Linked DNA regions of Homo sapiens: region 2 is linked to region 1. Evidence: fine-mapped expression QTL. Tissue or cell type: whole blood. Region 1 holds a variant in brackets; the other region holds the start of a gene. All regions are shown on one strand. Distances are from middle to middle. Region 1 has its middle 27 kb from the start of DOCK9-DT. Region 2 holds the start of DOCK9-DT (DOCK9 divergent transcript).

The links. PIP is the estimated chance that this variant, and not a neighbour inherited with it, causes the effect.
Region 2: it holds the start of DOCK9-DT, and the variant in region 1 is fine-mapped to the expression of DOCK9-DT in whole blood (TOPMed, PIP 0.98).

The regions. Positions count from the first base shown.
Region 1 is chr13:99,055,456-99,063,455 of GRCh38, forward strand. It overlaps a transcript of DOCK9 not described here. Among named protein-coding and RNA genes, the nearest start is that of DOCK9-DT, 27 kb to the right of the region's middle. The variant G/A (reference allele first, on the strand shown) is at 3,686.
Region 2 is chr13:99,083,414-99,092,430 of GRCh38, forward strand. DOCK9-DT (DOCK9 divergent transcript) reads left to right here and starts at 3,310. Exons shown (of 1, transcript NR_047482.1): 1 at 3,310-5,212. It also overlaps a transcript of DOCK9 not described here. RefSeq lists silencers at 2,642-3,121, 3,162-3,471, 3,562-3,621, 4,202-4,431 and enhancers at 3,312-3,873, 4,436-4,995.

The DNA of each region.
Region 1 (8,000 bases):
GGGGGCATCGCACCTAAGAGAAAGCGAGCCGGTGCTTAACTGTGGAGGGGACCGCAATGGGAGAAATTAGAAGAGAGGAGCAGCCAGGCGCACAGGGTCAGTTGTGCAGGGCAGAGCAGGAAGAGAGGCATATGGAATGTGGATTGGGATTTTAATGGAAAACTATATGCAGTTCTTTGTGGCCTAAGCTGTATTACTCAATTACATTGATAATATTGACTACATTGATATTATTAATAAGTTATACTATTACCATAATATTGCACACAGTTGTCAACTGTTCTCTAGGTTCCTAACAGCTGTGCCTAATAAGCCTGTACAGCCTTTCTCCAGCCTTAAATGAAGACAGACACTAGATACAGGCTAAGACAGCTTTTAACATATACTAGCTGTCTGCAGTGACTAGACCCAGGATCTGAGGCCTATGATAAATTCCTAGGCCAAAGAATCTGGGATTTTTTTCAGAAATCAGCCAAGCTTTCCAAAAGCACTGTCAGGACCAAATATCAGCTGCACTAAGCATCACAGGGACGTGGAATGGTAACAACAAAAGTGCCTTTGTAGCTGAATGAAACAGAACCTGGTCTGGTTACTGTATTCTATACCAAAGCCTTTGAAGATGACAAATTTAAATTCCACAAGGTCTTTCCAGTTTAGTGAACATAGAGAGTTTCCCTGGAAATATATATTTTTTTCCTGTAAACGGAGTGCCAAATGTTTTGATCATTTTTAGAATATATATGTAAAAAATACTTTTGAAAGTGCAATTGTGAGATGTTTCACCATACAAACTAATAACAGGCAATTCAGCTTCCCTGGCTATCCAATCATTGCTTGTTTGACATTGTTTGGGCACATTAAATGGTACTGATAAAGTTGTTTGAGAGTTTGTCTTTTAAAGCAACAAATCTTACTGGAAAACATTATCAAAGTAAGGTTACATACTAAATATGCAAAAGTATTATAAAGATACATTAATATCTTTAAAAAAGATAAGTAATATTAGTTTATACATTAACTGAGGGGAAAAAAGATATTATGTCTGTAATGATTCAACTAGGTGTGGCCCAGACTTGGCTAAAAAACCAGCTCCCAGTCACCCAGAGCAAAGAAATGAGCAACCTAGAAGTCATTTCTGGATGGATTTATGTTTGGGGGCAACAAACTCCTCCCCCACCAATTCTATTTTCTCAGCTAAAATAAATTTAATGGAGAGTACACCTGCTGGGGTGGCTGCCCGGCACCTCCCTTTCCCTGTAACGTGTTGTTTTTCTGAGATGTCCTCTTTCCCTTCCCCCAGTGGCAATCAGGGTCATTCATGCCAGGTCTGATGCAAGGCCCCCCAGGACAGGCCTTCCCTGGAGGCCAAGGAGCAGCTCCTCGCCCTGAGGAAAGACAGTGGCCCTGAGGAGCCATGCGTACAGCAGCGGGGATCCGAGAAGCCACATTCCTACAGATGACCCCATGACTTGGTATCGGACCCAATGTGGATCACCTCCCTGGGGGATTAGAGCAGCCTGAGAGAAGGACCAGTTTCTTGCCAAGTAGCTGGTCTCTCAGACAGCGAATTCCTACCATGTAGACTAGAAGCAAAGAAAGTCAATCTCCAGGCAGAGGACCCAAAAACTCTAGAGAGCAGCCGAGATAAGAGAGGATCTTGAAGGCTGGGACCCCCTCAATACACTCAGCTGGACCCCCACCCTTTAGTTCTTGGAGACATACTGTGTCCTTACAACATATATCCCTTTTTTCCTTTAATTACTTGGAATGAGTTTCTGTCACTTGCAACCAAGAGTCCAAATTAACACATCTAATTCCTAGCATACAGACAAGAAAAAATAAGTAGTAGTCTCAAAATGTTACGAGTTGACATATTGGGCCTGAAATCTTACAGCACAAAACAGGTAACCACTGAATAGGGGGAAAATGGTATTCTTAAATCTTAATTTTGAGACAATTACCCTGCCACTAAGGCACGGTAAGTCCTGGGTGAGCTGAGGACCAGATCTTCATTGCGCCTCTGATTTCTTTACTAAGCCACTGACTCAGGGACAACCTTGCATTTGGAGGATTTCCACATCTTGCTGTTGTGCAATATTTCCCAAATAAAAGAATAATATTTAACACCTAAAGGTTTCCATAACACTGATTTGCTGCTTTAAAAAAGAAAAAGCAAATGCAACTTATAAAGATTAAAAATACAAATTATAAATTTACAAGTGGAACAGCTTCAAAGCTGTTTGAAACAATAACAATCCCTTCCTTAAAGAAAAGCAATTTCAAAAGCATAGATAAGCAATCCAGGAGTGCCACACCAGCTTACAACACAGAGATCAGCAGGCACTCGCCTTGGACAGTAAACTAATTGACACACATTTAACTGAGTTTGAACATACTGTCATTCCCATTTATTTTTCTTATACTGATAATACACTGTAATAATACACTGTAATTCTGTTATGTTGAAAACTGATTGTATACTGATTGAGACCTAGATTTACAATCCTAGAATAATTACATAACTTTTATTAGACAATATTTCAAAAGGCAAAAGACGGCCAAAACAGAGGGGGAAGGGTATTTATACAATATCTCTCTCAAACTGTACATGACCAACAAACCAAGAAAAATATGAAATGTCCCAACTTCAAAAACACCCAGGCCTGGGTGGGGTGATTCTGACCCACAGTGTACTAACAGTACTTGATATCTTTTTTTTTTTTTTTTGAGATGGAGTCTCACTCTGTCACCCAGGCTGGAGTGCAGCAGCACCATCTCAGCTCACTGCAACCTCCGCCACCCAGGTTCAAGTGATTCTCCTGCCTCGGCCTCCTGAATAGCTAGGATTACAGGCATGCGTCACCACACCCAGCCAATTTTTGTATTTTTAGTAGAGGTGTTTCACCATGTTGGCCAGCCTGGTCTTGAACTCCTGACCTCAAGTGATCCGCCCACCTCGGCCTCCCCAAGTGCTGGGATTATGGGCATGAGCCACTGCACCTGGCCAAGAGTACTTGATATCTTGATACAAACAGTGCCAGGGGCCACAGAGCACAGTGAAGAACCAGATGAGACATCTGCTTGTGTCAGCAGGTCCCAGGACCCCCTGCCCTAATGCTGCACCTCTTCCCTCATCCTGCTCTATGTGCCCCATAGAGCCAGGGCCATTTACCAAGGGTTCCCCCCATCCACCCTCACCCAGTGGAGGCCTGGAAGCACCTGGTATGCTCAAATAAGGCCACACTGTAGAAGGTAACAGAGCCAAGGAAGGCAGGCTGGGTCATGCTGCCCTTCAAGCACTGCAAGGACTCCACCCCCTAAAGCACTCATAGGGCACATGTAGCAGCCACACACGAGCCCTGCTTTGGGGACATCTCTGCAGCACCCATGGCCCTTACCAAAGCCATCACTTCACTGGTGAATCCAGTGCAAACTCTGCATGTACACCCCACTTCACCTCTCAGAAGGTTGTGGCACCCCAGGAAGCCTCCTGGCTTTGGAAACACACTTCCCTTGGCTTCCCTGACACCTGACCTCCTGGAGGCTTCTTATCTCTCTGGCCTTGGCCCAGTCTCCTGTGAGGTCCTCTCTCCACTACCCGTCCTGTAAATGGTGAGGGACCCACTCCTCATCTCCTCTACACACTCACCACTAGAAATCACACCCACGACTGTGGCTTCAAGGC[G/A]GGCCATGGTAAATACACCATGACCAGAGATCCTGGCTCAAATGTCTGCAGTCGAGTCCAAGAATTTGCATTTTTAGCAAGCCCCCTGAGATGCTGGGTTCCTGAGCTCTGTATCAGCTGCCTACTCAACACCTCAATGGGCCTGTTCCAGGGACATCTCCACGGGTCCAGCTGTGGCATGCCGAGGTCATCTTTCTTCCCTCACCTGCTTGTTCTTCCACCCATGGATCAGCTGGGCATACAGGCATCATCCTTGATTCCTCTCCCCTCCCTCCTACATCTAATCAATTACCCAACCCCACTGAGTTTTAGATTTTGGACCTGTCTACTTCCTATCATTCCCGCAGCTATTTCCCAATGTTCCTCATCTGTATTATTCTAACAGTCCCTTCCAAGCCAACTCTTCACTGCAGCCAGAATGATCTTCCCAAAATACAAATGCAACCACATCACTGTCCTGTTTAAAATCCTTCAGAGGCTCTCAACCAACCTCAGGACAAAATACAAACTTGTGTTTTTAATAAAGTTTTGTGATATAATTCACATACCACAAAACTCATCCAAAGCATACAATTCAGTCATTTTACTATATATCCACAAAGTCATGCAATCATCATAACAATCTAATTTTCACCACTCCAAAAGAAAGCTCACACCATCAGCAGTCACTCTCCATGCCCCTCCCTCCAGTCCCTGGCAACCACTCATCTACTTTCTGTCTCTATGCTATTCTGGACATCGCGTATAAATGGAATGCAACAATATGTGGCCTTTTACGTCTGGCTTCTTCCACTTCACATAATGTTATCAAGATTCATCCATACTGTGGCATGTGTCAGTACTCCACTCCTTTGAATGGCTGAATAATATTCTATTGGGTGGATATACTACACATCAGTTACAGACATTTGATTGTTTCTACTTTTTTTTTTTTTTTTTTTTTTTTTTTTTGAGATGGAGTCTTACTCTGTCTCCCAGGCTGGACTGCAGTGGCATGATCTCGGCTCACTGCAAACTCCGCCTCCAGGGTTCACGCCATTCTCCTGCCTCAGCCTCCTGAGTAGCTGGGACTACAGGCACCCGTCACCGCACCCAGCTAAATTTTTTTGTATTTTTTTAGTAGAGACGGGGTTTCACCGTGTTAGCCAGGATGGTCTCGATCTCCTGACCTCATGATCCACCTGCCTCGGCCTCCCAAAGTGCTGGGATTACAGGCGTGAGCCACTGCGCCTGGCCCGATTATTTCTACTTTTTGGCTATTATCCATAATACTACTAAGAACACACAAGTACACATTTTTATGTGAACATATTTTCAATTCTTTTGGATATATAACTAGGAGTGGAACTGCTGGGTCATAGAACTAGGTCAAATAACTCTATATTTAACTTTCTGAAGAAACGCCAAACTGTTTTCCAAGTGCCTGCACCATTTAACACCAGCAATGTATGACGGTTCAAATCTCTCCACGTCCTTACCAACATAACAATAACAGACATGGTATCTTATAATATCTGTCTTTATAAGATGTCACTCCTTGGGTCTAGAGCAGGTACCTTTCTCATATCATCACAGGGCACCCCACACATCTGCAGTATCCTGTCTAGGGTATCTTTGGGTCCCTGATCCCACTATACTGGAACTGTCTGATCAGCTACTTAGGTCCTGACCAGACTGTAAGGTCTGCAAGGTCAGGGGCTGAGTCTGTCCCATTTACAGCTCTATCCTCAGGGTCTGGCAGAGTGGCTGGTGTGTAACAATACTCAGTGAATGCATGTTAAATAAATAAGTTACCAAAATCAACAGATTATCCAGTCTGAGCCTTCACTTTCCCTTTACATGTTAATCCTACATTACCTGTAATAAAATAACTAGTGGATTTGACAGTAAATATGTTTTCACAGATACAAAAAAGCCCAAGGCAGTTTAATCCCTTGCCTTTTAAGGATCTCTCATCTTTATAAGCTAAAGCTGACTGAAAGTATACTCTACTGACAGCTGCTCTATAAATGTTTACTGAGATAAAACAGTGAGCCCAAGCTGTTTCATTCCATAGAACACCTAAGCATTTGTCAATATGGCAAGACACTGAGGGGAACAGGAGGGTCAAAAAGACAATGAAGGATGTCAAGGACTGCTGTACACTTTCTCCTCCCCCAAAAAAACATTTTATTTTACTTTTCTGCATCTTTTAAAAAATATTATCTCCCTTATAGCCAAGATTCTCAAAGAGTCACACACACAACACTCCCTCACTGATAGAAATCTGCCTGTCTTAGAGACCCTCCTTGCCTAGCACTCCCTCGCCTTGACTAACAAGATGGGAGATGCACTGAATTAACTGGTCTTGCAACTTGCCATTACAGTTTTCTAGTGCCAAGCAAATCTGGAATGATCAGGTCTAGACCCATGGCAGACTGGGGAAGCCAGCGTCAAAGGGTATAAAGTCACAACAGAAGGTGTAGTATCAAAGTGAGGCAGCCTCACAGGAAGGGGAGCTCACTGGGGGCCTGAGTATCCCAGTGAGGTTTCCCTGGCCCTCTCCCCACCCCCACTGCTCCCAGGCGACCTTCCTTTTCCTTCTCACCACATCACTCTCATTTTCCACCTCCATGCCTTTCTATCCCATTCCGGTACTGTTTGGTTGTCTGTAAATGTTTTCTAATTTTCCTATAATAAACATGTATTGCTCATGTAATAAGAGAGGAAAAAGCTTTTTGTTTTTTGTTTTTGGTTTTGTTTTTTTTTTGAGACACGGTCTCACTCTGCTGCCCAGACTGAAGTACAATGGCGCCATCACAGCTCACCGCAGCCTCTAACTCCTAAGCTCAAGTGATCCTCCCACCTCAACCTCCCAATTAGCTGGAATCACAGTCACATGCCACCATGCCTGGCTAATTTTTTTATGTTTTGTAGAGACGGGCTCTCGCTATGTTGCTTAGGCTGGTCTCGAACTCCTGAGCCCAAGTGGTCCTCCCACCTTGGTCTCTGAAAATGCTGGAATTGCAGGCATGAGCCACCATGCCCATCCCTAGTTCATTGTAAAATGTACCAAAGAAAGGTCCCCTAAGAGCATCTGACAAGCCAACTTCTTATAAATCTAACTCAGTAGGAATTGTGCCATCTTTAAGTGATTTTAAACTTAAAAATAAATAAAACTTGTATAAAGTTTACATTTACTTTTACAGTTCATTGCCCCCTCCCAAGCAAACTTCGAATGACCTCATGGGAAACCAACCAACCAAAAAACCCACCAATCTATTTCGTTTTTCTAATTTGTCATGTGTTATAGATCTCTGGTCTGACAAGTTTTTAAATCACAAAACATACACTTATGACCTCCTTGATAAGCACCATAAATAAGAGGAAAACCATTTGGATGTGGCCTGCAAAGTAACCAATTTCCTTCTCATCTCCTGGCTTTTCTTAAAGACACGGAAAGAATGAGGGGCACTTGTCTGCATTCGCTCCCGCAAGCCTTCTACAACAGGATATCGCCATCCGCTGCCTGCTTTTCTGCTTTTTGTTCACTGCTCGTAACAGGAAAACTTGCTTTCCTGCTTTCTCAATACCAAATGGGTTACTCCTGCGAGGGAAAACATCCCTTCAGAATCCACCCCAGGGCTCCACAGAAGGCAAGAGAAACAAAAGCTGCACCATTCTCTCCCCAAATATTCCATTGGCAGGCAGCCCAGGACCGCGCCAGTTCAGTGGTTTAATATCCTGTCTCTTTGGCAGAAAAGGGAGAAAGAATTATGGAGCTGCCAGCCCAGGGTCCCCGAATCTACTCTCTACTACTCTGCGGGTGTTACCATTTGCTGGGCATCCATCATGACACCATCTTTTGAAGAAAGACAAACCAGCCACTGTCAGATAAGGGACCGAATTAGGAAAAGACCCATGTGAAGGTTCACGACTCAGAATACAAGAGGTCCAGGAAAGCCAGCAACAGAAAGAATCACTCTCTATGTCAGAATATTAGAGAAGGATTTAAGAAACAAAAGAAAAGAACCAACAGGAAGGCTTGTGCAGTAAGTCTAGACAGAGGCAAGGTAGAAAAGAACAGGGACAAACGAACGATGAAAAGCAAGCCTGGGTCATACTGAAAGATGTCGTGCTCTATTCATGGCTAGTGAGCCAAAATGACACTGCTGGTGACAGCCCTACGGCCCTACCCAGACTGTGGGGAACCCTTCCCAGCCTAGAAGGCCTCACCGAGCAGAGAATACACACATTCCTACCAAATGCTGGGGCTAGGCCTCACCTGGGTGTGGGTACCCAGGTGTCCAAACACCTTCCTCCACCCTGCGACTCC
Region 2 (9,017 bases), 28 kb after region 1:
TATTATGACACAGTTATGTAAGAATAGACCCTATTTTTAAGTAACATATACTAGTTATATAGAGGTGAAATGATATAAGGCCTGGGACTCACAATCACACATGAAAAATAATAGGAAGAAGAGACATATGAAGCAGGTTTGGCAAAATCTCAATAATTATTCAATCTGGATGATGAAATATGAAGGTTCATTATACTATTCTCTCTACTTTTTGTATGCTTATTTTCAAGCTTTTCAAACAAATTAATACAAAATCATTCATGAAAGTCCATGAACCTGAACACATGAAAAATGAAGCTATTGAACAATGAAAAATGGATAAGCCCACATTATGTTTACATTTTAAAGCTTGTTTTTAATGGCAGCCTTTATCATCCACTGAACTATTTCATTTTGTTGTTTCTGATCTCATGACCATCCACTCATCAATACTTGAAGTGTGGGAAGAGCTACTAAACCCACACATAGTTTAATTTTTTTTAAATCCATCTGCAGAACTGCTTTATTAGCTAGATAAGAATATTTATTGAGCATTTATGTTGTGGGCATTGTATTAGTGCTGACCCAAGTTATCAGACACAGAGTAATTATTTCCATCTAAGGACAGATGCACAGACCATGGGATTCTGAACCTGGCGTGGTTGCTGCTCTGCCTCCTGAGAAGTCCAGGGTTACCTTACCTCACCTCTTAGACCTTCATACAACAAAGCCCGGCCAGAACTTATGTGGCAGGTGCACCTGCTGTGGCTCCCTGGCAGACACTGGAGCCACTAGAGGAAGTAAGCAGTGGCAGAGTACCAGGAAGGAGGTGGGGGGATGAGGTGTGTGGGTAATTTTCAGTATCTGTAAGCCCTCCCAGATTCTTCCTTCTGCAATTCAGAACCATCACAATGCATTTCCTATTTCCCATTCAGCCAGGGGCCCTCACATGCCAGAGCAGGCCCACCTGCTTCCCTGCATTTTGTATCTGTTCCATCACAGGTTTCATCAGACAAGTGACCACAGACAGACGAGACTAAGAGTTAAGACAACAGCCGGGCATCTGGCTCTTCATGCTTAAGGGTGTCCAGGGAAAACGGATGTACTACTAAAGTATCATGAGATAACACAGTTGGCAGCCTGTCACACGTGGGAATGGACACTCCTAGGTCACCATTAGTAGGCCATCCTCCGATGGGAAGGGCAGATATTCGGGGACTACTGCACATCAGCAGTGTTGTGTCTGCACCAGCACTCCTGGGCTCCATCTACACGGCTTATTAAACCAGTACCTGCAGCACTTTGGAAATCATGGCACACTGGTACACTTTATTTACTCTTCTTCTGCCTCAAATCCCTGATGACCACGGCAGGCCCCAGATAAAGGAACCAACTTCTGTGTGAGAACAGAAAAGATGCCAAAGAAGTTGCAGGCTTTATCCTTAACATGCACTGGCAAAACTCAGGAAGATGCAGGAAGCCACACAGAAGTTAGCTGGTTATGGAAGAGATGGCCAGGTTCTGGTCTATTCCCAACTCCTGCTCTACTCCTTACCTAATCGACTTCCCTAAAATAGAAAAATTAAATCCTTGTTTACTATGGATCAAACTGGAGTTGGAGAAATTTGGAGTTGGCAGAGCTAGCAATCGAGAGAAAATTCAAACTGAGCAAACTGGATATAGAAATCAGCGAAGCTTCATCTCCAATCTCCACAAACGTCATTCACGCAATTCTGTGTCTGCCCAGGAAGGGCATCGATCTGCCACCAAAATGATGCATCCGCCCCTGTGTTAAGGGGCCCGGCACTCTGCCCCGACAATCCCCCACAGGGCCCAGACAACCACTTCCAAGGCCCATCTTCTTGCACTGTTCCAACAAACACAAGTCACACCCACCCACAAACAAGCCCGTTTCAAGAAAACAAATGCCGGCGGCAACGCAAGGAGCTGCTAAAAGTTTCCAGCTGCCCTGCAGAGCTCGCTCCTGCTCAAACGTCGCTCCACTCCCGCACCATCCAGGTGAATCGGGTTGTAGTGCGTTTCCAAATACAGCAGGACCGGCGCTGGCTGTGAAAAAGTTAATCGAAAACTTCATCTTCCTCACACCCAGAGGCCTATTCTCTAAAGACGTTCTGCCACGGGAAGATTCGTTTTGGGCTGATGGCTTTGCTTACTTAGAACCCCCAAACGTCACAGGAATTTGCACCAATACTAAATTAGCGAGGGTTCCCATCATGCCCCCCAAGCCTTCCTAAAAGGCGGCCAAACTTCAGGATACCGGCTTGGAGGTGGGGGGCGCAGGAGAGGATGCCGAAGTCCTTCCCTCCTGGAGTTCAGCCAACTCAAAGGGTTAGCAGGGGCATCTCCCACCCTGAGCGCAGACTGGATGAGGAAGCCCCCACCTCAATTCCCCTGCGCCCCTCCAAAACATGGAAGGAGAGGGAGGCCGGGGGAGGGATACGGGGGAGGGATGCGGGGGAGGGGGGAGAGTGTAATTTCCCAGTTGACAGAAAGCAGGTAAATTGGGAGAGAGCGGGGTGAAAAGAGTGACAGGGCGACATCACTCTGCGGAAATTTCCCAGGAGGAAGGGGACAGCGATGGGGACAGGATCTTGGGTGGCGGGGAGGGGTCTGGGAGTTGCAGCCCCTCCAGGACCTTCTCTTCTCCCCTGTCCAACTCCCTCCCGCCGGCCCCACCTCTTGATTCCGCGGACCCAGCAGGGTCGGCCGCTCTGCCTCAGCCCTGCCGACTAAGAGGCGCCCGGCCCGGGGCCCGCAGCTGCCTGCGCCCCCGCCATCCTCCCCCGGCCCGCGGTCGTCCCGCACTCACCAGGAGCACGGAGCCGCGCACCACCTCAGACACGCTCTGCCGCAGCTCGGCCGCCGTGCCCGGCTTACTCAGCGCCCGGGTGAACTTCCGAGTCTCCGCCGAGGCGGGGAGCAGCGGCGGCTGCGACATCCTCCTGCCCCCGCCGCCTCCGCCTCCGCCTGCTCCCGCGGCCCGGCCCGGCCGCGCGGCCGCCAGGTGCGCCCTCGGCGCCCGGCCCGCTCCGCCCGCCGCTCCCGGCGCCGCCGCCGCCTGCTCCCCCCGCTGCTCGCCGCGAGTCCGGCCGCCGCAGCCCAGGCCGCGCCCTCTGCACCGTGTCACGCCCCAAGGCGCCCCCCTCGGCGTCCGCGGCCCCCCGCGATCGCAGCAGCGCCCGGGCTCGCTCCGGGCGACCGTGCGTGTGGCGGCGGCGGCTCCCCCATGCCACCAGCCTCCCTCGGCGACCACTCGCCGGGCCGCCTCCTCGGGGCGGGGTGTCCGGCGCGGCGCGGGCGGGGCGGGGCGCCCGGACGGCGGAGGAGGGGCCGCCGCGGCGGGACGGCGGGCCAGGCAGGTCGGCGCGGCCCGGCGCTGGAGCTAGGCGGCCGGACTGGCAGGGGCGGCGTGCCGCGCGGGACCCTCACTGGGGAAGGTGGGGGGTCGGGGCCGCCTCCGCCCCGGGCCGCACGTCCGAAGACCGGAGGAGGGGACTGCGCACGCCACCAAGAGGGCGCACAGCCGAGGCTGGACGATGCGCGGTTTCGGAGCAGGGTTTCCTGCCCAGGGAGCCCGGCTGCGCTCGAGGGGACCCCGAAGTCACCGGCAGGGTCGGAGCTCGGTGCACCACGCCCCCCCTCTGCGCCCGGGGCCTCTGCGGGGACAGAGGTCTCAGGAAAGTAGCCTTTATTTATGTGGCACCGATCGGAACCCGCGGCCGGCCAGGCGGACCTGGACGGAGCGTCCCTGCTCGGAACCTGGCGCGGGGCGCCGCGCGCTCGTGTGGCGCCTCGGCCTCCCCACCGTTCAGTCCCCGGAGGCACGGAGCTCGCGGCGGGACGATGACGGTTGGGCCGGGCCAGGCGTGGGAGACTCCCAGACTCCGGCCCGCCGGGACGGCCAGCTGCGTCACCTTGGACGTGGGCAATACTTCGGAGCCTCGGTTATGTCGCCTGTAACCTGAGGACAACGGCCTGGAAGGGGCTCAGGTGACACGGCGGCCCTCACTGGGGCCGATTTAGCCGGTCTGCCGCCCCTCCGCGCCGGACCGCCAGGCGGGGTACCAGGGAAACTGCGATGCGCCGGCTTGCGAGCCCACCGTGACGCAGAGCTGGCGGCCGCTAGCGACAGCCACCCTGTGAGGGACTTTCCCCCCAATACCCTAACCGCTTTCCTGTCCCTAAGGGCCCGCTCCCGCCCCGGCTCCGTTTCTGTCTCTCTGAGGAAGCCCGGCGCAGCCTAACCCTCACAGGGCCGCGGAGAGGGCGCGCCAGGCGGGGATTTGCGCCAGGCCCGCGGCGCATGCTCAGTGGTTGGGGACTGGGCGGGTACCCCGGGCGGGGAGCCTGACTGAACGGCGGCTCTGCTGATTGGTCGGGCTGCTCACGCCACGCCCGTTGCCTTCCGATGGACAGTTCCTTACCTGCCGGGTCGGCCTCCGCAGAGAGTGGTGGTCTTGAAAACCCAGTTTTGGGAGAATACCTGCCGCGCCTCCCGCCCAAATACCCAGAGGTTTCATAGCCGCCATCGCTGCGGTGGAGGAGGCCGCCTGTTGCGTCCCACCCCACCAGAAAGCCTAACACTGGCCTGAAGCGTAATCTTAAAGTGGTAGGGGAAAATACCGATCTAGCGCAGAGAGCAAAACACCTCCGTTCTGGGTTTAATGGGCAGGTCTGGAGGTGAGGTATGCCGTCCGCACTCAATAATTACTTGCAGGATCGGATTGTTTCTCCAGTGGGTGGGGACTGCAGGATGTAGCATTGAGTGAGCCTGGCAGATTGAAAGATAAAACAAGGGTGATGATAAAAACAATTACACACTAACCCATTTCCTCCTCCGTGAAATGAGGGAATGGCCCAGACATTTTCCAGACCTCTTCTGTCCTAAGAGTGGAGCTGGGTGACAGAGCAGGTGCAAGCCGGCCTTTCCCTGCCTCCCCGGGGAACGCACTCTGTTCGGTGAGAGCAACTCAGCTCGCATTGACTCCTTTCAGCTGCAGGAGTGTGGCCGTTCAGTTCTCATTTGAACTGTTGACAACAGTTGTCTTCTGAGAATCATGAGTTAGAGCCTCCCTTTAGGCTTCTGACTCCCTCAAAAGTACCAGACAACACAAACTTTTCCCCTCTTGTTACCTTGGCTCTCTAAGCTGTATCTACTTCTATACAAGGCGAACAATTTTGTCTTTTTAAATTAAAAACAACAACAAAAGCACCTAAGGTTGTAGGGTTTTATATTCTTTTTTCTTTTCTTTTTTTAAGAGCTATATGATTACAGTAGAGTGTGTGTGTGTGTGTGTGTGTGTGTGTGTGTGTGTAGTCTAAAGAACAAAATTTCAACAAATGGTTTTAAAGATCTAATTGGCTTCTATTAGCAATGCATGAACCAGGCAGCATTCTGACTACAAAATAGACGGGAGCTCTTGTGGGAATGGAAGAACAGCTGGGTTTTGTTAAGGTAACTTAAGCAGGAACAAGGGAAAAGCATAGTGCCGAAAGCACATCGGGTAACTTCAGGTTACTCTCCTTTATGGGTTAAAGCAGAGGGGGCTGCCTTAGCTGGCTCAGGCTGACTGGGCCCCGTTTGACTGGTTGCTGTGAATCTCCTGGTTTTTGGAAAACTGGCCCTTTTGGGGATTTTCCTGTTTTTTAAAATCTCTGTTTAGTTACGTGGCACCTAACACAGTGGCTTCATTTTAGTCTGGTCTGTTGGGGCCTAGTTCAGGAGCTCAGTCCAAGACAATGACCTACCATAAATTTTATTTAAATATATGTATATCTGGAAAGTGAAGAATTCCCCAAACCTACCAATTTTATCCATATCTCTACCACTCCTAAATTCTGTACTTACTTGCTGATTCAGTATATTCTAGAATTGGCAGATTTTCATTTAGGAAGCAGAGAACAACAGACAATGTGCCAACAGTAGTCACTGGCAATGTCTAACCAAGCACAGGTTCTGACAGACAAGGCGGCATGGAAACGTGAACTAAGCCCAGGAAGATGGACCCAGCAACCCAGAGTGGAGCCTCTTCTTCCTGGTGAAGTGCTGTTGATAACAAATGGGACATTCCTAGTGTTAAAGTTTCAGCAGAAACTTGGTCCCTACTGTTCTGGGTTGAATTGTAGTCCCCCAAAAGATATATTGAAGTTCCAAACCCAGTACCTGTGAATGTGGCCTTATTGGAAATAGGTCTTTGCACATGTAACCAACTTAAGGTGAGGTCCTACTGGAATAGGTGGGCCCTAATTCAGTATGAATGGTTGTTTGTTTGTTTGTTTGTTTGTTTGTTTTGACAGAGCCTCACTCTGTTGCCCAGGCTGGAGTGCTGTGGTGCAGTCTCAGCTCACTGCAGCCTCTGCCTCCCAGGAGGCTGGGATTACAGGCACCTGTCACCACACCTGGCTAATTTTTTGTATTTTTAGTAGAGAAGGGGTTTTGCCATGTTGGCCAGGCTGAGGTCAGGTCGAACTCCTGACCTCAGGTGATCCGCCCATCTCAGCCTCCCAAGGTGCTGGGATTACAGGCGTGAGCCACCACGCCCAGCCTGAATGGTGTCTTTATAAGAAGAGACACAAATACATACACAAAGGAAAAATACTATGTGACAACAAAGGTAGGAAGGAGAATACTGCACACCTGCAAGCCACAGAACAGCAAGGATCACTGGGAACCACCAGAAACTGGAAGAGGCAAGGAAGGATTCTTCCCTAAAGTCATCAGAGGGAGCATGGCCTGCTGACACCTTGACTTCAGAATTCTAGCCTCTAGAACAGTGACAGAAGAAATTCTGTTGTTTTAAGTTTGTGGAACTTTTACAGCAGTCCTGGGAAACCAACATGCTGGCCAAAGGCTATTTTTAAAATTTCCACCAGAGTGGGCCTGGAATTGTGTGAATTCTTTTGGCATCACTATTTCCTGGAGAGCAGTCATACCTACAGAGGGGCAGAGCATCAGCCCAAAAGAGGGTGCTACCTGGCTACCTGGGATGAGGCTGACCTCTGGCTGGACTGGGTGGATGGTGTCTCAGGTACGGTAGAAGATACATCCACCTACATTAGCTTGATGGAGTAACCTCATCTTTGTTTTTCCAAACTATAGGAAGAAAGCTTTTCTTTCTGTTGAAAATTATACTAGTAGGTAGTGGAGATGAAATATAATTGCAGCCAGTTCTGAAATTTGCATGTAAATGACTGTACTACACCCAAATTTATAATTCAAGCATTACTCATGTTTAATGATAACCTCTTACTACATCATTTCCTTGTTAAGTTTGCTTTAGGATTTGTATGTGTCTTAATAACATATAATTAGTTTAAAATCTTTTCTGGATATATCTTGAAAGAGTATATCTGTTTTTAGCAAAAATAACAAGTGACCCATAAAAAGGAGGCACTCCTGTGCACTGTCACAGGGAAGTGTGAAAGGGGACTTTCGTTCTTTATTTTATCCTTGCACTGATTGAATTTTATTTATTTATTTATTTTGAGACAGATTATTGCTCTGTTGTCCAGGAAGGAGAGCAGTGGTGCCATCATAGCTCGCTGCAGCCTTGAACTCCTGGGCTCAAGCAATCCTCCCACCTCACCCTGCCAAGTAGCTCAGAGGACAGGTGCATGCCACCACGCCCACCTAATTTTTTTTACTATTTGTTGATACAGGGTCTCACTATGTTGCCCAGGCTGGTATCAAACTTCTGAGCTCAAGTGATCCTCCTACCTTGACCTCCCAAAGTTCTGGGATTATAGGTGTAAGCCACCGTGCCCGGCCTGACTGAATTTTTTTAATGAACATTCACTACCTTTATACTTCATTTATTAGGTTGGTGCAAAAGTAATTGCATCTTTTATTTCAGTGGCAAAAACTGCAATTACTTTTGCACCAACCTAAAAACTTTTTTTTTTTTTACAAATTTGTTTTTTGAAATTAATCAACTCATGCTTAGAAGTAGGCTCTTGTTTATTCCGCTAGGTAACATAAGTAGAAAACACATCTCTTCAAGACAGAGCATCTGGGAAAGGTATTACAATTAATCTAACACATGTTTCCAGATACCACTTAGGGTTCATGTTACTGGAAGAATGTAATCCCCTCTTTCACTTCTGTTTTACTTAGGAGACATTCTTAGAGGAAATGGAATATGAGGTCTTTAAGAGATAGCTGAGACGAGGGCATGTCGCATTTTATTATGTGTATAAGTCACCTGTGGATCTTGTTAAAATGCAATTCTGATTGAGATGGTCAGCTGTGGTGCCCAAGAGCCTACAGGGCTAACAAATTCCAGGTGATGTCAAGCTCCTAAATCAGATGCTGCTCACCTACAGACCACGCCTGGAGTAGCAGACAGTTTGACTTCACTGCAGGCTCTTGAAGATTCTCCAGCTGACTCAAAATTTAAGCAGGAAGGCGGCCAAACAATAGGAAAACGGGCAAAACTCATGACCAAACAATTCACAGAAAAGATATAAAATGGCTGGTAAACATATGAAAAGGTGTTTGACCTCATTTATGATGTAAGAAATGCAAATGAAAACTACACTGATATACAATTTCTCACCAAATTGGAAAAATTATAAGGTATCACACTTTATGTGGAAAGGCTATTGGGAAACAGGCACTGTCACACATTGCTGGTAGAGATGCAAGGTGACACAACTGCTATGCAGTAGAATATGGCAATATCTGACAACACAATGTATGCATTTGCCGTTTGTGCCAGCAATCCCACTACTAGGAATTTTCTGTGAAAATACACCTTAAAAAAAGGAAAATATTATGCACCAAGTTATTCATTGAAGCATTATTTATAATGGCAAAATATTGGAAAATATCTAAATACCCAAATATTGGAGATAGAGCCAATGTGGTACATGCACACAAAGATATTATTCAACTGAGAAAATGAATGAGAAAGATACCTATTAATATATGTGAAATGATTGTCAGGATATGTTGTTTTAAAAAGCAAAAAAAAAAAAAAAAGAAAAAAGCAACTGAACTATGCTGTCTTTAGGTAAAA